4 linked regions of the Homo sapiens genome follow. The protein of the gene in region 1 purifies or fractionates together with the protein of each later gene. This does not show direct contact. Each region holds a gene or a part of one and is shown on either strand. Other genes may lie near its edges. The genes, in order: XPO7, PLOD2, POLK and HK1.

What was found.
Region 2: the proteins of XPO7 (region 1) and PLOD2 purify together in Homo sapiens (affinity purification with mass spectrometry; 2 studies listed by BioGRID, with this or other methods). This does not show direct contact.
Region 3: the proteins of XPO7 (region 1) and POLK purify together in Homo sapiens (affinity purification with mass spectrometry; 2 studies listed by BioGRID). This does not show direct contact.
Region 4: the proteins of XPO7 (region 1) and HK1 purify together in Homo sapiens (affinity purification with mass spectrometry; 2 studies listed by BioGRID and IntAct, with this or other methods). This does not show direct contact.

Annotation. Positions count from the first base shown.
Region 1 is NC_000008.11:21,992,651-21,999,681, forward strand, and holds part of XPO7 (exportin-7), read left to right. Parts: intron 1-1,712; coding exon 1,713-1,801; intron 1,802-2,841; coding exon 2,842-2,949; intron 2,950-6,104; coding exon 6,105-6,187; intron 6,188-6,440; coding exon 6,441-6,655; intron 6,656-6,885; coding exon 6,886-7,024; intron 7,025-7,031.
Region 2 is NC_000003.12:146,158,156-146,165,519, reverse strand, and holds the start of PLOD2 (procollagen-lysine,2-oxoglutarate 5-dioxygenase 2 isoform 1 precursor), read left to right. Parts: upstream 1-4,335; 5' UTR 4,336-4,530; coding exon 4,531-4,639; intron 4,640-7,364. UniProt on the Homo sapiens protein: Forms hydroxylysine residues in -Xaa-Lys-Gly- sequences in collagens. These hydroxylysines serve as sites of attachment for carbohydrate units and are essential for the stability of the intermolecular collagen cross-links.
Region 3 is NC_000005.10:75,605,888-75,610,519, forward strand, and holds the end of POLK (DNA polymerase kappa), read left to right. Parts: 3' UTR 1-4,104; downstream 4,105-4,632. UniProt on the Homo sapiens protein: DNA polymerase specifically involved in DNA repair. Plays an important role in translesion synthesis, where the normal high-fidelity DNA polymerases cannot proceed and DNA synthesis stalls.
Region 4 is NC_000010.11:69,314,474-69,321,846, reverse strand, and holds the start of HK1 (hexokinase-1), read right to left. Parts: upstream 3,001-7,373; 5' UTR 2,900-3,000; coding exon 2,837-2,899; intron 2,784-2,836; exon of another isoform or gene 2,670-2,783; intron 1-2,669. UniProt on the Homo sapiens protein: Catalyzes the phosphorylation of various hexoses, such as D-glucose, D-glucosamine, D-fructose, D-mannose and 2-deoxy-D-glucose, to hexose 6-phosphate (D-glucose 6-phosphate, D-glucosamine 6-phosphate, D-fructose 6-phosphate, D-mannose 6-phosphate and 2-deoxy-D-glucose 6-phosphate, respectively).

The sequences.
Region 1 (7,031 bases):
CAGTCCTCCTGCCCCAGCTTCCCACGTGGCTAGGATTATAGGCACGAGACACGATGCCCAGTGAATTTCCACATATATGGAATTTTAAGTTCTTGTTTTCTAGCTCTTAGAATTGTCATTTCTTGATTGTTGCTTTCTTCATCTTTTTACTTCATACATACTGTTCTCTTGACCTGTATAGATCTGTGTCCAAATCAGAAGACACCAGGATGTTACTATTGGTAGGACTTTTTACAGTATTCCTCAGGGCACCAAGGCTGAATGGTAGAACTACCAGCTAGCCAGGGTATTGCCAGAAAAAAATGCCAGGCTTTACCTAGCATTCTAAAGCTCTCCTTTTTCATCTTTAGCCTTTTCTTTTTCCATCTACAAATCAGCAGGGTAGACAGAAAGCAACAACACTTAATGCAACCCTCTCTCCCCTAATTATACTTGTATTTTAGAGTCTGAGATAGGTACCATTCAAAGCTTGGGTTATTGTGGAACATATTACCAACTTTAGGCTAGAGTATCAACCAATATCAAGGATTTAGGGATATCAGTGAATATCAGCCCTTTTTCCCATTATATGGTATTAGTTTCATGTAAAGCAAGTAAAATTAACCAAAAGAACAACCTTGGTAATGGACTACAGCTGTCACCCACTTCTTTGTCATGTCCCATGTAAAGTCTTTTAAGAGACTGACCAAGTCTTAGACTGGAAAACTGAGCTTGTGGTATCAGCTTAGGAGAGAACTGTTTGCTTACAAGCAGACTGTTAACAGAAGTGATGTCGTTTTTGCCAAACGTGTCAAGATCCCCAAATGTACAACCTTCTTGAGCACATTTTGTTGTTGTTGTTGTTCTGTCTCCACGTTTGGAGACAACCCCCAAACTATGATTTTTATAGTAGTTTTATTGCTGTTCATGTCCCAAGTAAAAGTTTTATTGAGAGAGTGAGTATTGGATTTGGAGTCTTGGTATTATGTATGAGTCCTGATCTGGACCCTCCTGCTACCTAGCAACATGACTGGGGGAAGTTTTTTGGCCTCTTTAAGCCTCAGTCTCTTTTTCTGCAAATGGAGAGTACTGATTAAACATAGTCTTATCTAGATGGCCCACCCAAAGAGAGAGGTGCTGTGTAGACTCCCCTTTGTCTTCCTCCTGGCAGGGCCTGCATCTGACTTCCTTTAGGGTATATATGGCTCTTCTACCTCTTCTTCTTTGGGACTTCTGTTTTTCTTTTTTGCTTTTTTCTGGCTTTTTGAGTTGGTTTCTTTGCCGTGTCTCTCTCTCTCTCTCTCTCTCTCTGTCTCTCTCTCCGCCCCCCACCCTCTCTCCCCCTCCCTCCCCTCCTTTCCTCCCTGGGTGGACTCAAAGCTTTTTCACTTTTTACATGTGATGTATTACTTCAATGTCTTAAAACCTTATCAGCCTCTATTTTTGCTACGAACCAGGAACGTATTTTCTTGGCAAAACAAACTTCCAAAGCTAATTTTCTTGGCATAACAAACTTCCAAAGCTAACAAACTTCAAACTTCCAAAACAAACTTCCACTGCTAGAATGAAAATATGCCATTCTAGCATAGAAGATATTGAATCCGAATATTTGAGAAGGAGTATATGTTGAACTGTGAGAGAAAGAATTTGATGATACATGTGTGGAATCCTCATCAGATTGTTACAGTTTTGTCTTTTCTTCTATTTTAACACATTTTTGCCTTCTACTACAGCGAACTCTAGTTGGCCTAGTAAGAGACCTGAGAGGGATCGCTTTCGCTTTCAATGCCAAGACCAGCTTCATGATGCTCTTTGAATGGATGTATCCTAACTCAAACTAGGAGCACACTACAGCCTGCCTTAACTGGAGTGTGATTGGGTGATAGGGTCCAGAGACGGTGTAGGGGGAAGGGAGGGTAGTGAGGCAGAGAAGATGAAGAGTTAGCCAGAAGGCCTGCATGTGTCCTGGAAGCCACCTTATGACAGACATAAGGTTGTCTGAGATTAGAACATGAATGAAGTAGTCTCCCAGTTTCTCTTTTGGATCTCAAATATAAATGCCTGTGGAACCATATACCACTGTAGAACTGTTGGTTTTGCTATATTTAGAGAGATGTTTCAGTCTGCTGAAAAAAATAAAAAGGCCAGGCACGGTGGCTCACGCCTGTAATCCCAGCACTTAGGGAGGCCGAGGTGGGCGGATCACGAGGTCAGGAGATCGAGACCATCCTGGCTAACACGGTGAAACCCCGTCTGTACTAAAAAATACAAAAAATTAGCCAGGCGTGGTGGCGGGCGCTTGTAGTCCCAGATACTTGGGAGGCTAAGGCAGGAGAATGGCATGAACCCAGGAGGCGGAGCTTGCAGTGAGCCGAGATCGCGCCACTGCACTCCAGCCTGGGCGACAGAGCGAGACTCCATCTCAAAAAAAAATAAATAATAATAATAATAATAATAAACAGCTTTTACAAATTAGGAAGTCTAACTTTACTGACTTCATACCCTTGTGAAGATTATTTCAAATCCAGGTGCCTCTTTAATAGTTATGTAAAGGAAATGAGCTGATCCCATATAATACCATAGAAGTGATGAAAGGACAAATAACAGTATGAAATACATCATGCTCTTCAGAAGAAAGGCCCTATGTAAACTAAAATGTATTATGAGATGCCTTTCACAGGTTAAAGAACACAAAATCACTTTAGTATCTTCTGGTTAGAAAGACTCCAAGATTAGCAAGCAAGAGACAGGAACTTAAAGAACTGTAGTTTGACAAGTTTTTGCTTGGCTAGTGCTGAAAAACTATTTTAAATTCTGTACCTTTCTGGAATCAGAAATCTTTCCTTAGCTTCTCATTTACAGATATCCATCCTATATGCCAATTCTCCAACGGGCAATTGAGCTCTGGTACCATGATCCAGCCTGTACTACACCTGTACTCAAGTTGATGGCTGAATTGGTTCATAATAGGTAAGCAGGAGGCAGAGCTTGCAAGGGCACATCTGCCCTGTTATCTGAGAGAATTTGCTGTATCTAGTGCTTTGGGCAGATTGTGGGAAATAATAAGATTCACTACTGCATTTTAAAATTCGAAAAGTTTTTGTGTTTTTGTTTGTGTGAAAGAATAGTATTCCTAACTACACAAAACCATAGTCAACTGCAGGAAATAAGTCACTTTTTTTGGTTTGTTTGTCTTGTTTTTTTTGAGGCGGTGTCTTGCTGTCTCCCAGGCTGGAGTGCAGTGGCACAGTCTCGGCTCACTGCAAGCTCCATCCCCCTGGGTTCACGCCATTCCCCTGCCTCAGCCTCCGGAGTAGCTGGGACTACAGGCACCCGCCACCACACCCGGCCGATTTTTTGTATTTTTAGTAGAGACAGGGTTTCACCATGTTAGCCAGGATGGTCTCGATCTCCTGACCTCGTGATCCGCGTGCCTCGGCCTCCCAAAGTGCTGGGATTACAGGCGTGAGCCACTGCGCCCATCTAATAAGTCACTTTTAAAAAGAGTCTCCAGTGGGGCATGGTGGCTCATGCCTGTAATCCTAGCTTCTTGGGAGGCCGAAGTGGGCAGATTGCGTGAATGCAGTAGTTCTAGATCAGCCTGGGCAACATGGTGAAACCCACCTCTACAAAAAATTAGCTGGGCATGGTGGCACACAACTGTAGTCCCAGCTACTCAGGAGGCTGAGGTAGGAAGATTGCTTTAGCCTGGGAGGCAGAGGTTGCAGTGAGCCAAGATTATGCCATTACACTCCAGCCTGGGTGACAGAGCAAGACCCTGTCTCAAAAAAGTAAAATAAAAAGAATCTCCAGATGTCTACTCTTAGGAGAAGTAAATTTGGCAACCAAGATTCTGATTTCCTGCCCACAGATAAGAAATTAACATCTGGTAATGGTGCCTTGTCCATCACATTTCATGGTTAGAGACATTGAGAAGGATATGATAGATATTAGAATACCCTTTCTTAAGAAAGGTATTTATTAGAGAGGTTGTGGCAGGATCAATAAAAATTTACTTTTAAAAAGTGAGCAAGATTTTCAAAACAATTTAAGGACAGTGAAAAAGAAAAGTCTAGCACCTTAGCTTTCCTAGAATTTCAGGTATGGGCATTGGTCTCTCATGGCGGTCCTGAGAGAATTAGTAAGGTTTTTTTTCTTTATTTTTATTTTATTTATTTATTTAGTTAGTTATGTTTGATCCGGAGTTTCTCTCTTGTCGCCAGGCTGAAGTACAGTGGCGCAGTCTTGGCTCACTGCAACTTAACGCCTCCTGGGTTCAAGCGATTCTCCTGCCTCAGCCTCCCACATAGCTGGGATTACAGACATGCGCCACCACGCCCGGCTAATTTTCTATTTTTAGTAGAGACGGGGTTTCTCCGTGTTGGTCATGCTGGTCTTGAACTCCCGACTTGAGGTGATCCGCCCACTTCAGCCTCCCAGAGTGTTGGGATTGCAGGCGTGAGCCACCAGGCCTAGCAGAATTAATAAGTTTTAAAACAACCTTATGGAGTGGGTAATATTTAAAGAGGCTATAACCTCCCAGGAGACTTATATTCAAGAGTTACTCATTTATAAAATAGATACTTGAGAGCACTTACTCTTTGCCAAACTTTCCTAGCCACTATGCCAGACAAAATCTCTACCCTCTTTGATGTTACAAATGGTGGGGAAGACACACAATAAAAACAAGTATGGAAGATCTTTCCAGTGATTAAGTGCCATGAAACAAAATAAAACAAGGCAGTAAAATAGAGGGGAATTGAAGGACAGGAGGGTCAGGGAAGACCTCTCAGAGAAGGTAATATTAACTAGGATCTAAATGACAAGAAAGATTCTGGTAGCCCTGCAAAGATAAGGAGTCTTCTAAACAGAAAACATCTGCACGAGTCCTGAGATAGGACAGGCTTGCTGGGACTTGTGGCAGGAGCCTGGTTGGTGGGGGGAGGCTGTGGGAGCAGGTCAGACCAGTGAGCAGAGCCAGATCATCTAGTGCCTTCGCACAGCAGTAGTGAGGAGTGGGCATTTATTCTCATTGCTGTGGGAAGCCGCTAGAGTGTTTTCAGCAAAGGATTAAAATGATCTCATTTAAGTTTTTTAAAGGCTACCATGTGAAGAATGGGACTAAAGGCAGGTAAGAGTAGAAGCAGAGAGAATGTAAGGGAAAGGTGGATTTGGGGTTTATTTTAGAGTTAGATGTTGATGGATTCAGTGTGGTGGGGGGGAGGAAGGAGGAAGGACTCCTGGGCTTTTGAGGTCTTACCAACTTGAATCTAATAAAGCTCATCAAAATGTGGAGCAGACAAAAGAGTCAGGAACTTAAAACCAAGATGGTTACAAATGGCCTTCTCTGTCTGGCTTCTTTTGGACCATTCCAAGTCCCTATGCATCTTTTCTTCATATAAAATGGTAACAATGCTTTGGCCCCTCTCCCTCAGTTGCCACTGAAGCCATAAAGGTCCATGCCAACTAATGGCTGAAGGGCTCTGCATTAGTATCAAGAGGCGACGGGTAGAAAGTATACTTTAATCAAGGCCGGGCACGGTGGCTCACGCCTGTAATCCCAGCACTTTGGGAGGCTGAGGCGGGCGGATCACGAGGTCAGGAGATCGAGACCATCCTGGCTAACATGGTGAAATCCCATCTCCACTAAAAATACAAAAAATTAGCTGGGCGTGGTGGCGGGCACCTGTAGTCCCAGCTACTTGGGAGGCTGAAGCAGGAGAATGGTGTGAACCCGAGAGGCAGAGGTTGCAGTGAGCCGAAATTGCGCCACCGCACTCTAGCCTGGGCGACAGAGTAAGACTCCATCTCAAAAAAAAGAAAGTATACTTTAATCAAATAAAATTGAGAATTTTCAAATAGTAATTTTATCTACTGCTGCTTTTTTTTTCTTATAAATGTTTTTAATTTGAGCAGCAGAATCTGAATCTAGCATGTTGGTCTTCAATATAGAAGCTACTTCATGGTTAAATATCTATAACTTGGTTATTCTCATATTAGGATAGGCAATTGCTTACCTTAATGTAAATGCAGGATCACCCAAGGTACTCAGATGAGAGCCTCAAGTACCCCAGTCTTCCAAGAAAACACCTCTGACTTTTTCTCCTCCTGTGCTCTCTGCTCAGGTCCCAGCGACTCCAGTTTGATGTCTCTTCCCCCAATGGCATCTTACTCTTCCGAGAAACCAGCAAGATGATAACAATGTATGGTAAGTGCTTCAGATAATCATGCCTCTAGAAGTTAATTCCAGCTCAGTCACCACACTGTAAGCAGCATGTGGGTCTCTGGCCAGTCCTGGCAGGAGCCAGGACAGCATTCGTATTGTATGCTAATACATGTGCATTAGAGTGCCACCTGTCACCAGGGGCCTACTGGAATTTGTATGCCTTTGGAGTAGGAAGGCTGATCTAAACGAGCGCTTCTAATGTGGTTGAATAAACATATATGACATGTCTACTCAGGCAATCGCATCCTGACACTAGGAGAGGTCCCAAAGGATCAGGTCTATGCTCTGAAGCTCAAGGGCATCTCCATCTGCTTCTCCATGCTGAAGGCTGCTCTCAGTGGGAGTTACGTCAATTTCGGAGTCTTTCGTCTCTATGGAGACGATGCCCTGGACAATGCTCTGCAGACCTTCATCAAGCTGCTCCTCTCTATTCCTCACAGTGATCTCTTGGTAAGCCTTACGCTGCATTGCCACAATCTTGTTCCTCATCACATTCAGCCTTTTTCACCTGAGACCAAGATTGAACACTGCTCTTGAGAAACTATGTAAGCTAGCTCCTTTTGCTCTAACTAAGTCTTCTGTTTTCCCACCTAAAAGGAGCTAAGCTATTTAAGATCGTCTCCCTGCATGCTGGAGTGCATAGTGCCTAAGCTGATTTTCTTCCTCTTCCTCTCCCACAGGATTACCCCAAGCTCAGCCAGTCTTATTATTCACTACTGGAAGTCCTGACCCAGGACCATATGAACTTTATTGCAAGCCTGGAACCTCACGTCATCATGTATATTCTCTCTTCCATTTCTGAAGGACTTACTGCACTTGGTAAGCA
Region 2 (7,364 bases), on another chromosome or scaffold:
ACATTCAGACATCAAATTTTGTTGACTCTACATTCAAATCTATCTGGAAATTGACCTTCATTTACTGCTACTGACTTGCTTAAAGCCTCCGTCATCTCTCTCCTGGACCACTGCATTAGCTTTCAAGTTGGTCTACAGGTCTACAGACTTTCTGTTTTATTTCTCCACTCACTCTCCCTTATCTTCCTCTAATGTGGCAGCTGTGGACTCTGTGATCCTTTTTAAATCCTACTTCAGATCATGTCACTGCTCTGCTTAGAACCATCCAAATGGCTTTTCAATTCATCCAGGGTAAAGGACAAAGCTGTTACTAGGTTCTACCCTTATCACACTGTCTGTTTATCTGCTTGCCTCCGCCCTGCTTGTTACCTTCTCAGGCTTCATCTCCTACTATTCTTATGCACAGTCACTGAACATTCAATTGCCCTCTTGCTTCCTCACAACACTCCAGGTATTTCTGGTCTCACAGTCCTTGCACTTCCTGTTTCTTCTGCCTGGAACACAGGTCCCCTGTACATCCTGGCCCCCTCTTTTTCTCACCACTTTCAGGTCTTTGCTCAAGAATCGTCTTCTCAGTGGGGCTTTCCCAGGATCCCTTACTAAGGTTTTGGTATACCTCCCCTCCTTATTGGTCCTTCCCAGTTACCTTTCCTGATTTACTTTCTCTCTACCACTTATTACCTTATATGTTTATCTCTGTTTCACCTGAAACTAAAGCACAGTAGATTTTTGTTTTTTCTGTCACTAATAAATTTGTTTTTACCAATATCTATCTAGAACAATGCCTGAGATATAGTAGTCATGGAATATTTTTTGAATGAATCAATGAATAAACAAATGTGCTACTATGGTACTTACTCTTTGATGATGAAAAATAATTGAATCCTGACCTTAACAGACACACTGTCTAATAATAATTCTAAGAAAAGACCCTGTCACAAATGAGAGAGGTTTGCTTCAGAAGTTAGAAATCATGGAACAGGGACATCTAAACCCATCCTGAGGTAGGGTAAGTTACCCCAGTTGGGCTTCCTGTAGGAGGTGGCACTTGAGCTTGACAGACATTAGCCCAATGAAGGAAGGAGGACAGGTTTTGTCATCCTTTTTTTTTTTAGATATAGGGATAACATGAACAAAGGTATGGTTGCTGAGCAAATGCTGCTTCTCTCATTTCTCCTCAAATTTCCTTACCATTTCTGAGCATGTCACCCTGACTTCTTATGATCAAGAGTTACATCATCAGAGTGGCTGCTACCATAGCAGGTTGGGAATGCCTGGGAATTAATGAGTGTCCCTCAGCCCTTAAGTCAATGACTGATAGGTGTTGGGAATATATATCCCAGTTCTCTGACCCATTGACCAGGATATTTTTGAGTGATATATAGTACATCAATTTTGTGGGATTAAGCTCCCATTACCCACTGTGGTTGATTTAATTGGATATTTTCCCTTTCCTGTGTCATTTTAGCTTCACCTATCTGGTTTTCTCAAAACTCTCCACAAACCGCTAGTCACTGAATTTGGGCTCATGCTTGGGCTTCAGAGGAACCCAAATGATTCCTACCTAAACTTTAGAGAATTAAAGTGACAAAGTATTTGGTCTGCTTTAGGAGATAATAAAGCAAACTACGTTGGTTGGGTTTAGTTTGGCATGAAGGAATCTGAATACTAGGTTAGGGAATGTGGATTGTTTCCAAATCTGTTATGAAATCTGTTTGGGGATGAAGCAATCAAAAGGATATCTGAGTATGATTAATCTAGTTGTGGTATATAGTGGTATTACACTGGTGGTAGGGAAAGTCTACAGGAAATGGCATAGGATACACTCAAGAGTGCATTAGTTAGTGAGGTAGCAGTGAGAATGGAAAGGAATAGATGAAGAGAGAACATGAAGGGAAAAAATGACAAGATTTGGAGTCCGGCTCTGTGAGTTGGCGGGTGTGGGGGATGGAAAGAGAGAAGTAAAAATGTCTGAGGCCATATGAGTTAGAGAGCAGTAGTATCAACAGAGATGAGGGAGCCGAGTGGGATCTGGATTTGATGAGTTAAAAGACATATCAGGCCGGGCTTGGTGGCTCACGCCTGTAATCCCAACACTTTGGGAGGCCGAGGCGGGCGGATCACGAGGTCAGGAGATCGAGACCATCCTGGCTAACACGGTGAAACCCCGTTTCGACTAAAAATACAAAAAAAAAAAAAAAAAATTAGCCGGGCCTGGTGGCGAGCGCCTGTAGTCCCAGCTACTCAGGAGGCTGAGGCAGGAGAATGGTGTGAACCCGGGAGGCGGAGGGAGCTTGCAGTGAGGGGATATCGCACCACCGCACTCTAGCCTAGGCAAAAGAGCGAGACTGTCTCAAAAAAAAAAAAAAAAGACATATCGAGTTTTTGCCAATGGAACATCCAAGTAGAAATGTTCAGCAGATGGCTGGAAATGTAAGAAAGCAGGAAGGATTTGGTTTGAGAATTGGGGCTCTTTCAGACTGTTAGAAATGTCTAGGTATTTGAAAATCCCAACACTTGCTTTATACGAGTCTCACAGCACAGATGTTGTGACTCTTAACAGAGAAGGAAGAATGTCAAAATAACCTGAAATTATTAGTGGACTTTTGGAGTTTAAACACACACACACACCTGTGATGCAGAGAAGCCGGTAAGCATTCATGAGGGGAACGGGGGTTTGGGAGGGCAGGAAGCCAGGTTGTAGCTCTCCAAGTTCTTAAAGATACTGGAGAACCAAGGAAGCAAGAAGTCAAGTTCAAGGAGTTTGGCAATTGCAGGTTTGGCTTTCTGGAGACAGATCTGGCCAAAACACCAGCCATTCCTAGCAGAGTCCTTGGACTCAGAGGACTGATGCTGTTTGCTTTGTGCCTAGTTTTATGAAGCTGTACTTGCCACACATGAAAGGCTGTTATTAAGGAATCCATCTTTTAGCTTTTTTTTTCCCCTTCAGACTAAATAAACCTTATTTCATTCTTCTCACAGGTCATAGTTTCCACTTCTTTAATTATTTGTTACTCTTCTCAGAACTTTCTCCAGTTTTCCTCTTCTTTTAAAAAACTGAGACCAAACCTTCAAAACAGAGTAATAACTGGCTTAGTTCTGGGCACAGGAAATGATTCTTTCTAAAATGTCACATCCCAGGCAAGATTTCTTTGCAGGGTTTTCCACCTGTTTTTAATGCTATCAAGATGAAAGCATTAAGTTCATGTTATCTTGATATGTTAATTTTAGACAAAACGTGATCATAATGGAACACATTTTTCCATAATTTTCTGTCTTAATTTCAAAGGCCCAGAGTTATAACGGGTGTTGTCTCGATTCTGTTTTTTTCTAATTTCACGAAAATTTAGGCAGGAGATTCCAGAATGGTAGCAGTTTGGTTCTCTTTCTCCTATAAAATAGCTTATGTCATTAAATGTATGAGGCAAAACTGTCAAGCTTTTTTCTTAATTGTGCTTTTGCTCCCACTCATTCCAACAAGTTAAACCCTTGGCTAGTTAAAATGTGAGAACAGAAAAAAGGGAATTTTCTTAGACATCAGTCAAAAGTGGAAGCAGTGGGGGCCAAGGCTCAGAGATCTCGACCTCTCCGACCACGTCTTTGGGAGTAATTTTCCATGCGGACTGGAGCACGATCTTGTAAGCACAGCCCCGGCATTACACACGTTGGGCTCCGATTCCGCAGGATTTACAAGCCTCATTACTGGAAAGAGTCTAAGGCTCTCTTGGCACAAGCGGCGGAGCAAGAAATGTTCACTGGACAATAAAACTTTCGGTTTACGGAGTAAAATAAAATCACGGCCTTCCTTTTACAGGGTGATGAACCTGCCCCTGAATTAATGAGGGGCGATCCATTTCCATGGCTTAAGAGTCTGGCGAGGTCCCAGTCAGCCAAGATTGCCGCAGATTTGCAGTCACTTCAGACTGGGTGGAGTATCCAAGTCCATAGAAGAGCAAATTCTCACCCTTCGAGGCTGCTGTGGAAGCTACCGGGGCTGGGACAGCAGAGAGGAACCCAGACGGGAACACCGCCCTCCCGCCAGACTCCCGGCGGCTCCTCCTCCCTCTCCCAAACCCACTCCCAAAGCTAAGTGCAGGCTTCCCCGTTCCAGCCAGAAGCGCTGCGTGAGCCTCCACACGTAGCCGCAGGCAGCTCCTTAAATAGCGTCCGCGCTGAGCAAACAGTCCAGACGTGGGGCCCAGGAGGGCGAGCTGAGGCGACCGCACCGGGCGCGCAGCGGCGGCGGGTCAGCCGGCGGCCAATAGCCAGGGCGCGGCCCGCCCCGTCGCCTCCCCTCGGGGAGCCTATAAGGCCTCCGCAGCGCCCCGGGCGCCTGCTGCTCCGTGCCTCCACCGACGACCTCACTCAGCTGCGTTACGCGCCGCTCCGGCTGCCGGCCGCGCGCCTTGCCCGCCGGCTCCCGCCCGCAATCGGCGGCTCAGGGCGGACCCGGGTCTCTGCGTTCTCGCGAGAAGCGCGGCGCTGCGGGGCCGTGGGCGCCTGAGCCCGCGCGGCCCTCGAGGGCCGAATATGGGGGGATGCACGGTGAAGCCTCAGCTGCTGCTCCTGGCGCTCGTCCTCCACCCCTGGAATCCCTGTCTGGGTGCGGACTCGGAGAAGCCCTCGAGCATCCCCACAGGTGAGCACCCCGCGGTCCGCCGCTGTCCCGCGAGGCTCGGCCGGCGGGGGGGCAGTTCATTCATCCACCAGCCCTTCCGCGGGGCTGGCCAGGTGAGTAGTGGGGGCCTGTCCCTCCTCTCCAGGACCGCCGGGGTCTTCCCCAGAATTGCGGTCGGGCGGCGCTGGTCCCTGGGGAAGTGTAGGGGCACCCGCCCTCGTTGACTCCTTGGAGTTCTCGGTGAACTCAGCGTGCCCGAATTTCCCTGCAGAACAAGTTGGAGTTTCCTTTTGGACTTGCAGGTCATGGGCACCAACACCTTTCCTGCAGCTCTCCTTTCCCCTCCTTTCCGAGAGTTGGCATGGATTTATCCTTGATGGACGAGGCAGTACTCCTTCTGTGACCTAAACACGGGGCTTAGTGTACTTTCTAATTGATGGTGACACATTCCTTCCAGCACCCCAGGAAGCAGCCGGTAACACCTCCCTCTTGCCAAAAACAACGCTCGCTCGAAAACCTTAGTTGTTTTCAGTAAGGCTGCCTGGCTACCCAGTACCTCCAGGCGGCAGCTTTCTTCCTTTGGGATCTGAAGGGGAAGCTGTGGACACACAGCTGCTCCCCTTACCTACCCTTTTCTTGAGCCCGGTGCTGTCTCTCGTTTTCAGAAGCTGTGTAAAACAAAACGTTTTATATTTAGCCAGATTAAAGAGAGTTTCACCACGTCTGTCTAAACATGCTTTGCTGCCTTTTGTGGCACATGAAAAATCCTTGGAGTTTTCCACATTTGTGCTCTTTGTGCTCAACTCTCTGAAATTAGATCTTGCATTTAAATGACCTTCTAATGTCCTTTTTGTTTTGTTTTGTTTTTTGTTAAGTCATCTTGGCACCATTTTTTCCCCCAAGTTTATAATAGAGTGCTTTTCTACTTGAACTTTTCTTAAGCCTAAGGACAGAAATTTCTATTTCAGAGTTACATTCAGAAAGTGACATTTGGTTTGCAGTCCAGCTAATCCATGTAGCGATAGTTTTGTCTTCATCTTTAAGTGTTTCAGAAAGCGTCAGCAGGCTGAACTGCCTATCTTTCTACAAAACAGTGCTTGCTTTGTTAGCTTGAGAAACTTCAGCATTCAGATGGATTTCTATCAGTTACAGGATGCTTTTCTTTCTGTTAGGTATATGTGACCATTTAAAAATGGATTTCTGAACCCGTGTGATTCCTCTAAATTTGAACTAAACTTTTGCATAATTTAAAAATATTTCTTCTAACATAATATCTGGAAAGTAGAAAGTAAATACTTTCAGCAAATTTGGAAGTAGAGAAATTTAAAAAGGAAAAACAGAACAAAAAGCCTTCCCCAGAAAAATGTCTTTCTTTGTTGAAACACCCAAGGAGACTTTAACTGGGAAATAAAATAACCTCTAAGGACTTTGTAATATTTAGAGAGGCCTCTTTGGCCTTTGTATATTTTATTCCACTTCATTGCCAACACCCCTAACTTTTTAATAGAGGACATCCCTTTGTATCTGCCTTTATATTTATAGTCAAAATCAAATTCCCTTCTCACTCTGGATTTTAAATTTCATGGAACTGGACAGTAAACTTTTAATGGATTGTGATATCAGAGAAAGAGAATTTTAGGTATGAAAGTTTCCTCAGGAAACGACCACATGAAACCCACTGTTTAAATCTGAGGACTGGTCACTTGGTAAGCAGGCATGGAGAATTCGGTTAGGGTCGAAATGTGGGAAAATACTAATTTGTGATAGGTGAAGCCAGCAGTAGTCAGTTTGATTACAAATTTCGGTGTAGGTAGGTGTTCTCATAGGTTATGTGATAAACTAATAAATGTAGAGGTAAACTGCTTGATAAAGTGGGCAGAATCATGGACTGTGGTCTATTTTATTCTTTACAAGTTTCAACTGAAAATTACTAAATAGAAGCTTATTCGTTGACATAAATATCAAGATCTTCTATAGGACCCTAAATTGTCTAGCTTAATAGTTCTTTAAGAAGAGTGCTTATCATCTCTAACCCTGTATATTTGTCAACATGTCCCAGCTAACCAAGAAGAAATGGTTTAAATCACAATTTCTTGGCCCTATTGACATTTTGAGCCAGACACTTCTTTGCTTTGAGGGACTATCCTGTGCATTGATGTTTAGCAGTATCCTTAACCTCTGTGCACTAGATGCCAGTAGTATAACCTTTCTAATCTGAGCACCAAAAAAACAAAAAAGGCCTAATGTCCCCAGAGGGACAAAATTGCCCAGGGTTAAGAATCCCTGGATTAGACTAATCTATTTGTATTTGAGGCAATATGGCATTATAGTGTTACTGGAATGATAACAGCAAATTATTTTTGAAAACAAATATTTATAGTGATTTTCAGTTTACCCACTGTAGTTGGGAATGTGATACACATTCATCAATTTTTGGAGTGTAGTTTTTCCTAGCTCTGGTGCTTTGTTGACCAGAGTTGAGAACATAGATTTTTGTTAAATTTTTGAGAGTTCTGTGTGCTGTATTGATTCCTTTTGGTTGCCACTTTATTCTTAGCATGGAAAGACTAAATAAGATTTTGGCTAAAATAATCATTTTCTCTGAAAATAACGTATAGGAATTGTTACCTGAAAATTATATCCTTATGGGAGCTTTCAGAGGCAGAACCTTCTTAATCAGTGCCAGTAAATCAGGTTCATACCCTGATTTATCTTTCCTGCCCTTTCTGCCTTCTAGATGGGATAA
Region 3 (4,632 bases), on another chromosome or scaffold:
GAGATTTGGAAAAGAAAAAGACACAGAGACAAAGTATAGAGAAAGAAATAAGGGGAACCGGGGAACCAGCGTTCAGCATATGGAGGATCCCGCCAGCCTCTGAGTTCCCTTAGTATTTATTGATCATCTGTGGGTGTTTCTCAAAGAGGGGGATGTGTCAGGGTCACAAGACAATTGTGGGGAGAGGGTCAGCAGACAAACACGTGAACAAAGGTCTTGGCATCATAGACAATGTAAAGGATTAAGTGCTGTGCTTTTAGATATGCATACACATAAACATCTCAGTGCTTTACAAAGCAGTATTGCTGCCCGCAGGTCCCACCTCCAGCCCTAAGGCGGTTTTTCCCTATCTCAGTAGATGGAGCATACAATCGGGTTTTATACCGAGACATTCCATTGCCCAGGGACAGGCAGGAGACAGATGCCTTCCTCTTGTCTCAACTGCAAGAGGCATTCCTTCCTCTTTTACTAATCCTCCTCAGCACAGACCCTTTACGGGTGTCGGGCTGGGGGACGGTCAGGTCTTTCCCTTCCCACGAGGCCATATTTCAGACTATCACATGGGGAGAAACCTTGGACAATACCTGGCTTTCCTAGGCAGAGGTCCCTGCGGCCTTCCGCAGTTTTTGTGTCCCTGGGTACTTGAGATTAGGGAGTGGTGATGACTCTTAAGGAGCATGCTGCCTTCAAGCATCTGTTTAACAAAGCACATCCTGCACCGCCCTTAATCCATTCAACTCTGAGTTGACACAGCACATGTTTCAGAGAGCACGGGGTTGGGGGTAAGGTCACAGAATCTCAAGGCAGAAGAATTTTTCTTAGTACATAACAAAATGGAGTCTCCTATGTCTACTTCTTTCTACACAGACACAGTAACAATCTGATCTCTCTTGCTTTTCCCCACAGCAAAGCAATTTGCATGCTCAGCCTTGGCACTGGTTGGAAGGAGGGACTGCCAGTGAGAATTTGAACCATAAACCAGTACACATGTAGGCTTGTAATCTGAATTCACACAAATGGTATCATCCTAAAGAGCTCAAGCAGAAAATGTAATTAAAGTGAGGTTAGTATTGCCCCTAGTGACTGGCAGAAGCATATGCAAATCCTCTATGGAAGAACTCAACTTCAATTCAGGCAGACAACTTAGTATCTCAATTAAAAAGATGTGATAATGTGAAAAATAGGTGTTACAGAATTGATGACTACAATGTATCTCCCATCCTTGAAGCTCACACCCTCCCAGCTAGGGGTAGCCATGTGACTGAGTTTTGACTAATGGGATATAAAAGGAAGTACTGGCCGGGTGCGGTGTCTCACGCCTGTAATCTCAGCACTTTGGGAGGCCAAGGCGGGTGGATCACCTGAGGTCAGGAGTTCGAGACCAGCCTGGCCAAGATGGTGAAACCCCGTCTCTACTCAAAATACAAAAAAGTAGCTGGGCGTGGTGGCACACACTTGTGATCCCAGCTACTCAGGAGGCTGAGGCAAGAGAATCGCTTGAACCCGGGAGACGGAGGTTGCAGTGAGCTGAGATTGCACCACTGCACTCCAACCTGGGTGACAAAGCGAGACCTTGTCTCAAAAAAAAAAAAAAAAAAAGGAAGTACTGTGTGTGGTTGCTTCTGGGAACCTTCCTTTCTTGCAGCTGTAGCATTCTGTTTGCCTCTTCTTTCTATTTCTCTGTTCCATCCTGCTGCCTGGAAGCAGATGCTGCCGTTTACACCTGAACATAAGGGTTGCACAGGGGGATGGTAGAGTAGTGGGCTGCAGGGGCTGATTCTTGGGGCTTTGTAAAACAGAGACATATCAGCACTGGCCTGCACACTTTGAGACTTTCACAAGAAACAAATTAAAAAATTGTTTAAGCCATAGTTACTTGGGTTTTCCTATTAATTATAGCTGAATCCTAGCTGATAAAGGACATAAAGATTATTAAGACATGTTTGTCCTCAAAAAATGGAGAGCCACCCCAGGGACAGTTTCTATTCAATGTAGGGAGGGCTATAATAGATGAATATACAAAGTGGGAGTCTAGGGAGAAATCGTCTGGTAGAGGAGGGCAAAGAGAAATCTAGGAAGATGTTTTTAAAAATATGGAATCCTTGAACAGGACCTGGTTTTAAAGGTTTACTTCAGAATTGAACATATTTTTTTAGTCTAGACCTTTAGGGGAAAAACTTAAAGCTTTCAGGACTCAAAGACAAGTTACTGTTCCCATGGCTAAATTGCATTCCATATTTATTTGACAAATACTTATTGCAGGTCGGGTACTGTTTTAGCCACTGGAGATGCAGTAAGAAACTTAATTAATTTTTTTTTTTTTTGAGACAGAGTCTTGCTCTGTCACCCAGGTTGGAATGCAGTGACATGATAACAGCTTGCTGCAGCCTTGACCTCCGTGGCTCAGGCCATACTCCCATCTCAGCTTCCCAAGTAGCTAAGACTACAGGTCTGCCCCACCACCACCAGCTAATTTTTAAATTTTTTGTGGAGACTGGAGTCTCACTAAGTTGCCCAGGTTGGCCTCAAACTCCTGGCCTCAAGCCATCCTCCCACTTCGGCCTCTCAAATTGCTGGGATTATAGGCATGAGACACCACGCCTGGCCCAACAAAGTTTTAAAAATCACTGTATTTATGAAGTTTACATTCTAGTTGTGGAAACCGACACTAAACAAATAGACATTTCAGTGGTAAGTGTTACAAAGGAAAGAGACAACAGCATAAGGGAATGGAACATGAAGGTAGGGGACACTTTTAGAATAAGATGATCCGAGAAGGCTCCTCTGAGGAAGTGACATTTAACCTGAAACCTTAATGATACGAAGGATCAAAACTATTTTAAAAATTCGGAAGTGGAGGTGGGGGAGAGAAGTTCTAGGCAAAGGGAGGAAATAGAAGCTGATGGCTCTCCACCAGGAAACAGTGGATGAAGAATGGAGAAGAATTGTAGGGCCCAAGATCAGAGAGATGAGTAGGGCCAGATCATGTGGGCAAGCTTTTATGTATTAGCACGCTTAGAATTAATATTCTGCTTGAGAACTAACCTGATATTTGAAACAGAGTGAAAAAGAAAATACCTCCCACAGTATACTTCATAGCTTCTTATTTAGCCCAAGCTGTCAGGGAAATAAAGTCCAGCTATGGCTAAGTTTCACATAATGCACTGCTTTGGAGTTTTTGTCTCATCTGTTAGAGTAAGATAAGTACCACATACTATTATAAGGCTATATAGCATAAAATGATGATGCATTTTCTCCTGTCATTGATAAGAGGATTTTTTTAAAAGTAAATTTCTTGGTTTAGAATTTGAAAGCAGTTTCAAACTTGGATAACACAATTCAGATCTTTTTTTAAAATTATTTTTTATTTATATTAAAAAAAAATTTTTTTTTTGAGATAGGGTCTGGCTCTATCACGCAGACTGGCACACAGTGGCACAATCTTGGCTCATTGCAACCTCTGCCTCCCAGGCTGAAGCCATCCTCCCACCTCAGCCTCCCAAGTAGCTGGGACTACAGGCATGCACCACCATGCCTGGCTAATTTTTGTAGAGAGGGGGTCTCACTTTGTTACCCAGACTGGGAGATTTTTCTGTACTTGGCTGTATGCTTTCCATTGATCTGCTGCTGTTTTCACTATTATTCCTTCTTTTGTGTGGGTATTTTCTTTTGATTTTTAGAATTTTACTTGTAAACATGCTACATATACATATAATTTGGTGCCCTGTTTTTCCATTTACATATTATACTTTCCATATTAGTACATTGTCTGATATTTCTGCATAATACTCAATTCAACTTACCTGCTATTGTTTTTATCATATCTCTATTACAAACATTAGGCCCATTTCCCTTTTTTAAAAGAGGAAAGTTTGAGGTTATGGGCGGTGTTCTGATAAAATAAATAATATTTTGTCATGTTTGTTTTTTCATTGATTAGGAAACATTGTTTTGAATTTAATGCCTCAAATTTGGTGCACAATAATTTGAAGGGAAAAACTGACAAGTTTGAAATGAACATTGATATTACATAATTTACATTAAAATGATACATCTTTTGTAAATTTGTAAGAAGAATAAATAAATGAAAACCTGATTACCTTTCTTATTTGAAGTTTATTTGGGGGGTCAGAATTTGACTTGCTTCTGTATTATTTCACTTTTCAAAAGAATCCGCCAGGAAAGATTAAAATTCATGGTCTTCAAATGAGAAATCAAGTCTTACTTTATTCAAAAGAAAATGTTGGAAGCCCATTTAGAAATGATTTAATATTGAAGTTCCTATAGTGTTAGTTATAAATTCAACCTTGACATTTCTCAAAATTATACAAAGAAGTGGTAGAGTAGAGCTGGGAGTTCATTGGGGCTTGTAGATTTTGCAGGAATTTTTTTTTTTAATGTGTTAAAACAAATTTTATTTACAATAACAGGCAGCAGCGGGATTTGGCCTGGGGATGGAGCAAAGTGACCCCCTGCTGTAGAGCAAGGTGAGTGAGTCACGCCCTTGACAACACATTCTTAGAAGTCATGCTCGTTAGGGGCAAGTTCTGTTTCTTCCACCAACGTCTTCAAGCCTCAGAATCCTTTTCTATCAAACGGGGCTAATAATAGAATACACCATACCTCAGAATT
Region 4 (7,373 bases), on another chromosome or scaffold:
TCAACAGCACCCATTAACCAATTTATGCAGATGCCGTCTGGATAATGGGGTTCCAAGCTGGGAAGTCAGACACCTGAACTGTTTCAACCCAGGATATATTTTTATGGAGTTGAATTATTGATGTGCCTCATAGGCAATGAAGAAAGAAATGACACCATTTTCATGATCACGTTTGGATTCTAAGCAATCCCAAAAACTTCCCCGGCATGGTCCCCAGCTTCCCTTCTCCTACCTCTGGCTCTGAGGGCAAGAAGATAGATGAGAGTTACTGAGGGATGCCAGGTCTGTCTCCAGAGCCCCGGAGGCTGCCTACAGCTGGAGGGCTGAATCATCATGGCTGCCCACGCTGGGGGGGAACCATCCTCAGCAGGTCCCTGCTGGGAGGCAGGCAGAGTCCAGCCCCACAGGAAGAACAGGGGGTCCCGCACCTTCACCTAGCCTTTCCTATGGTGAGTGGTACGTGGAAAGAGCTGGTCTCTAAGAAATCCTGGGCCCCAGAAGAGCAGATGTGGTCCCCAGCATCTGCACACTTGGGCAAAACTGAGTAGGTCACTGGAGCAAGTACCCACTATGTCACTGTCCTTAGAAGGCCCAGGCTGGAGTGCGGTGGCGCAATCATAGCCAGGACCACACCCACAGATGGCTGTGCCACACAGTCCACTATGCAAAATGAGTGGACCCCCTGGCAGGAATCCACGTACTCCCCTATAGAAAGCAGCATAGGAAGTCCGTGGTGAAATGCAAGCAAACATCTTGTTTTTAAGAATCTCCTTGACAAATAATATCTGGTGGAAACCTTGGCCTTAAGACCTTCCTCCAGCAAGGTTCTCGGGGAAGAGAAGGGAAGAACATCAGAATCCCAAACTCGGAGTGAGGAGGGATGGAAGGGTCAACTGAATCACACACTCAGGTACCTACGGGGGCCTAGGAGATAGACTGTGCATCCATAGATGTGAATTGAGCCACCCACAGGAGTGGAGAGCTCTGGGCCCACCCTAGACACTGTATGTCTGAGAAAACATGTCCCACTGAATGGAGTCCAAACCTCAGCCCAGCTCAGCTGCTGGAGGCCACCGGCAGCCAACAGCCAGCAGTCTGTTGTGGGTGGTGGTGGGTGTGGACACTGGAGGTTTACAAGGTCACCCAGGCACCCCCCAGCCCAGCAGCCCACTGTCTTGAGCTATAAAGGACACCACGTGCAGGAGGACAGTGAACTCTTGGCTTCAGGAGGCCTGTTCTGGGCACTTCTTGCCATGCCGGGAGAACTGTCTCCCTGGTCCAATGGGAAGAACATCAGTGATGCACAACACCACTAGAGAAAACTCATGAAATGCACACACCCGCACGCACAGCTCCCAGGTCAGTGGCCAGAGGGAAGCTCCAGGGTGCTCCATAGGAGCAAGTGTTTCGAGTGCCACGGTTTGACAACCCCAGAGTGCTTAAAGCCATAAAGAGCAATGGCAGATGGCATTCCCAAGCCTATCTCCTACCTACCTCACTCCCGGTCCCCACCCACCATGGGATCCAAGATCACGGCAGGGTCCCCAGCGGCTTTGTCTCTCAGTACCCACTCCCTCCTGGAAGCTGACCTCCAGGAGGACCCTGGTGAAGTTCCTGGGTGGAGGCACTGGGAGACCTGGATCCCCCTGACTGGCTCTGCCTCTAACTCACTGGGTGACCTTGATAAGGTCGCTGCCCTCAGTAGGCCTGTTTCCTATGGTGCCAGATGAGGGAGTCATCTTAGATGCACAGGAAGAGGATGGAACACCCTATGGCTTGCCGGGCAGAAAATCAAGGCCTGTCACTCCTGCCTTTCACCTGTAGAACTCCACCTGTCTGAACGCCAAAGTCAAGATGACTTTGCCAGTCCATCCCAGCTAACCCCAGCAATAACGTCACCACGTTCAGGGTGGGTGGGCCTGGAGCCTGTACCAGACCTGGCACTGATAAAACGGGCGTCTTTCCCTACAGCTTAGGCTGTTTCTTTAAAATATGGTAGCACAGCTGGCAGAAGAGACAAATACACCTTTAAGACCTGCCAGCGGACAGTATTTTACACTAAGATGTCAAAGGCAACAACACCTCAGGACAGGAGGATGCATGCGTCCAAGTGCTAGAACAAGCATGCCACAGGCGTCCACCCAACTCAAATGACCAGTCGCTTATTTGAGCTCCTGTGCTGGCTAGAAATTACAGCTTAAGAGGAATAAAAAATTCCATTCAGACGTGCCGCTCCAGACACGAGGCCTATGAGCAAAGTTTCCGGTGGCCTCGCCGCCCCTCCCCGTTCCGGGAAGCCGGGCGGGTCACCTCGTCCTCAGATTAACGAGCAGCTCAAACAACTGGGAGAGCCCGGCGACAGCTTCTCCGGGGCACCCGACACCCTCCGCCAGGAACCCCAAATATGGGAGGCCTGGCCTCCAGCCAGCACCCCCGCCTGCTGCTCGATCACCTCCCCAGCATCTCCATGATCACACCTCCTCCCACGGCGCTCGGACCCTCCCGAACAGGCCCTGCGGAAGGGCCCACCGGCCACCTCCCCGCACAGCCCGGGGGCCTATCTGACATCCAGGGCCCGTTTCAAGGACACTGCAGCAGGCAGCCCGGTCTCGGGGGTCTTCCGCCCGATTGCCCCCCTCCCAAAAACGCACACACACAGAGACACTGACAATGCCGGTAGAATCGAAGGCGAAGGCTTTCCTTGCGCCCTGCAGTCCAACTCGATGCTGGCCCGGAGAAGGCCGGGCGCCGGAGGATGGAGGCAGCGGAGGCGGCGAGCGGATGCCGGAACGCAAGGCTGCGGCCAGGACCAGCGGCGGCGCGGGCGGGGGCTCACCTTTTTGACCTGGTCATCCTTCAGCTCCGTGAAGTAATAGGCCAGGAGCTGCGCGGCGATCATGCTGGCGGTCGGGGTCGCGGGGCGGCAGGCGTGGGGACGGTCGGTCCTCCGCAGCCCTGGCGAGCCGTGGTCCTCCGGCGGCTGCTCGGCGGCTCCTCCTCCTCCTCCTCCCCCGGCTCCTCCCCCTCGGCCCGGGGCGCGGCGACAGCTCGCGCGCTCCCGGTCTCCGCGCTCCCGTCCCCTGGAGGGTGACAGCCGCCAGCCGACCCACCTCCTCCACGCCCATTGGTTGCGGCGCGCCTCTGCAACGCCCGGCGGTGGCGTCCCGGCCGGGGAGCGGGGACGCGGCGGCCGCTCCCTCCTGCGCCGGAAAGGGGGCGGGCGACGCAGCGAAATCCCCCCCGACCCCGCATCATCCTGCACGTCCCCCACGTAGGGAGCCGATGCGGGCCTTCACGCGTGGCGGCGCCGTGCCCGGGTGGGCCGTGCCAGGCGGGGAGGTGCGAGGCGCAGGCAGGAGGCACCGCCCGGCTCCGCCGGGACGAGAAGCCCCTAGGGCTAGTCTAGGGACTGGCAGCCCCGGGGGCACGAAGGCGGTCCCATTCCTCGGAAATGAGGGCTCGCCCCTAGGAGTCCGGTGGACGCCGAGGTGCCGGAGGGGACTTGCAGAAGTGGGCGTGGAAAGCGGGCGGAAGCGGGAGCCGGGGACGCTACGCAGTCCTCGCACCCGGGTCCCGCGCCTTCCTCACCCAGGCCGAACGCACCGGCCTACCTGGGTCTTCAGCGGCAGTGCATCACCTCTCCCCGGCGTGCCCCGCCTAATCTCCAGCTGGCAGATTTGTATTGCTGAACCCAAAGCGACACCCCAGAGCACCCGCCCCCGAGTCACCAGCTCCGGTGGCTCTCCCTCAGGGCGCACTCCCTCTGGGCGGGACTTGGGCCACAGGTCGTGGCCTGTCCCCATCCTCTGGGCCTCCTCTTGCTCTTGGGCATCCAGGCCCACTGGGACTTGGGGCACGGTTCAGCGCCCCTTCCCAGGTGCCGTGTTTTCTACTTTCCCAGAGGAAGTTACGTAGGATGGGAGGACTCCCTAGAGGTGCTACCAGGACAGCCACTTTAGGATTCTTAGATTAATTATTTCTGTGTTCCGGAAGCCTCCAGGAGCTTTAGTGCCTTACAAAATGACATGTAATGAGCTCAAATATACAAACAAGTTGTTGCTATTCTGGTTAGACAGGTAAGGAAATTGAAGCTCAGTGAGGCCTCAGTCTTGCTGGACTTTATACAGCCAGGAAGTTGTAGATCTAGGATCACAGCTTGGATCTGTGAGTCTTTGAAGCAGGTGCTCACCTCTAGGGTTTGCTGTGGTCCCAGTTGTATAGAGCCCCTCTGCCTAAATAGGTCACTTTCCTGCAACCAAGTCTGCACCATATGGTGCCCTGAGATCCAACCCCCAACCTCTACCCTAGCTCTTGACTTTAGGAGTCCCTAGCCCTTGACCAGGCCTAGCAAAGGTACAGTCAAATCAGAGGGAGGGATGACGTAGGTTCAGGGGCCTGACAGCCACCATCACCCACAGAAAAGGAGGAGCTTAGATGCAGTCCTGAGGCCCCAGCTTCCTGTCCAGGTCACAGTCCCCACCCCCTGCCTTAGGGCCTATGCAGAGGGGCATCTTGAATCACCTCTGAGACTGTGTCTTCATCCATAAGATGAAGACACTAATGCCCACCTCACCTCCCCTTGATTGTTGTGTAATACTGTACGCAAAATACGTGCACATAATACACACTTAAGGAATGGCAGGTATCATAGAACTGACTGAAAAGTTAATGCGGTTAAAGCTTCAGGGACTCTCACTTTCATTCCTACCCTTCTAGGCCCTGGGAGGGCCTAGCAGTGTGATATTTGTATATTTATATTTGAATTATTTTCCATAGAGAGTGCCAATTTATTTAATTTTCAAGCCCAACAAAACCTGGATTTGCCCTGGATCATAATTATAAACCAGGAAGAGAGAGATTTTCTGGTACACATCAAACATTTGGAACTACCTACATGGCCGTTAAGCAAAATGGAGTGAATGAGAACAAGATGGTTGTTCTCAACTGCCATTTCATTTGAGTTCTGCAGATCTGCCAAGCTCACAGGGCTGGAAACTCCTTGAGGATGGAGGACTATGTTTTGCTAATTGCTCTGTCTCCTACACAAGCGCAGGGCCTGGCACTTGGCAGGCTGAATAAGCCTAATGCATAATCAAAAACATGGCCCTTAACCCAGCCACCAGCCGGTGCCATCACCCATGCCCAACCCGTTGTTACAACTCCTATCTGAGCTGGAGCCAGGGAGAAGCTGACGCTTGGAAGAGCCAGGTTACCCTGAAATGTCCTGTTTGCAGGCAGGAAAGCTGCCTCTGCTTTGTCTTCCCTGGCCTTTGAGAGGGAAACTGCTTCTCAAGGTGACTCATTCCTCCCCACTCCATGAATGCAACCAGGCCCCAAGGCCTGTCAATATTTCCTGAGAAATGTCTCTAGGCCTGACCTATTGCCACCTCCCAACTCCCAGTCCATCTCCCTGTGCCAGAAATATTACAAGAGTCTTCTAACTGTCCTCCTCGGCTCCTGGCCTCATGCCATCCAAGTCATTCTGAGCACCAGGTCACATTAATCCTGCTAAAATGCAGCATAATCATGTCATGACCCTTCCCTAAATCCCTTCATGGCCCTCTCCTTCCTGAGAGAGCCAATTTAAACATCTCTGCCTGGTTTCCGAGGCCTTCTGTAATCGACTCCACTCTTTCCCACTTATCTCTTCCTCCACTCTGGCCGCAACAAGGCCACTTCCCACCATCCTCTGCCCCCACCATGTCCACTCCATTTGTTCGCCGCTCATATTCCCTTCCTTGCCCTGCCTTCTCCACTCACCTCTGCCTGACCAAGCATCCCCTCTCATCTAAGGCCCAGCTTGCCAACCTTCCCTGGACCACAGCTACTCACCCCAATCTCCCAGGCCTCAGCACCTCGACAGGGCAAACTCAGGCTGTGCTCACAGTCCATCTGGATATACACCCAGACTCCTCTTTACAGGGCAGGAACCTGGGATGCCACAGGTGGGCCATCTTGCCCAGTGTCAGGTTGTGGTAGAGTTTTGAGCCAGGACTCCAGCCTAGTCCTGATGCCCAGCCAGTGCTCTGTCCATCCCACCCCCAACCCCTCATGCAACCTGGGCCTCAGATAAGTAACACTGAGTCATGACTGCCTAACTGATATGGGTGACTGTCTTCTAGGGGGCTGGTCCTATCTGCCCCAATCAGACAGCTTCCTGAGGCCAGGGCCCATGCTGCACTGCTGTGTCCCCTCTCTGTTGTTCCAGTGCTGACTTCACTAATTTCCTTAATAATTTGCCTCTTTTTGCTCTTGCATAGCTCTTAGATCCCTGCTAAGGCTCCTTGACAGTTACTCCCTGGATCCTCAGGAAGACCCCAACCCACAGGGAGTCCTTAGTTCCCTCCCTCTCCAGATGGCCCTCCACTTCCCTTCAAGTCCCCTGAACTCTCTCTACTCATTTACTGTGGTACCTCCTACACAAGTTGGGGTTGGAGTGACCAGTGCCAGGCTGCCACCCCAGGAAACGCACCTGCTTATAAGACAATAAAGGCTGCCTTCTAAGTTGGAATGTCTGTACCAATTCCCATCTGACCCATGGCACTAGGAATGTTACTTCAGGAGTGATCTCCAACAGATAACAGCTGTACCTCCCGCACCTGGGAGCACACTCTGAATAGCAATGTTTACATAACGTTGACAGTTTGCAGAGCAATTTCTCATTTATTGCTTCATTTCTCCTGATAACAGCCTGGTGAGGTTAGAAGGGCAAATATCATTATCTGCACTTAATCAGTCAATGAGGATGTGAAGGTTATAGAGCTTGGGTGTTTTGGTTTTTTTCTTAAATTGAAATGAGGTCTTGCCATGTTGCCCAGGCTGGTCTCGAACTCCTGGACTCAAGGGATCCTCTTGCCTTGACCTCTAAAACTGCTGGAATTGGCCAGGCGCAGTGGCTCACGCCTGTAATCCCAGCACTTTGGGAGGCTGAGGTGGGAGGATCACGTGGTCAGGAGTTCGAGACCAGCCTGGCCAACATAGTGAAACCCTGTCTCTACTAAAAATACAAAAATTAGCTGGGCATAGTGGCAAGAGCCTGTAGTCCCAGCTACTTGGGAGGCTTAGGCAAGAGAATCGCTTGAACCTGGGAGGTGGAGGTTGTGGTGAGCCAAGATTGTGCCACTGCACTCCAGCCTGGGCGACAGAGTGAGACAGTCTCAGAAAAAAAGAAAGAAAAGAAAAGAGAGAAGAGAAGAGAAAAGAAAAGGAAAGAAGAAAAAGAAAAAAAGAAAAAAATGCTGGGATTATAGACGTGAGCCATTGTGCCCAGCCCTATAGAGTTTGTTAAGGTCTCAAAGAGAGCGAAAAAACGAAAATTAAGACCAGTGCCTAAACCATTGGAGCATCTTAGAACCCTGACACTATGGGACTGT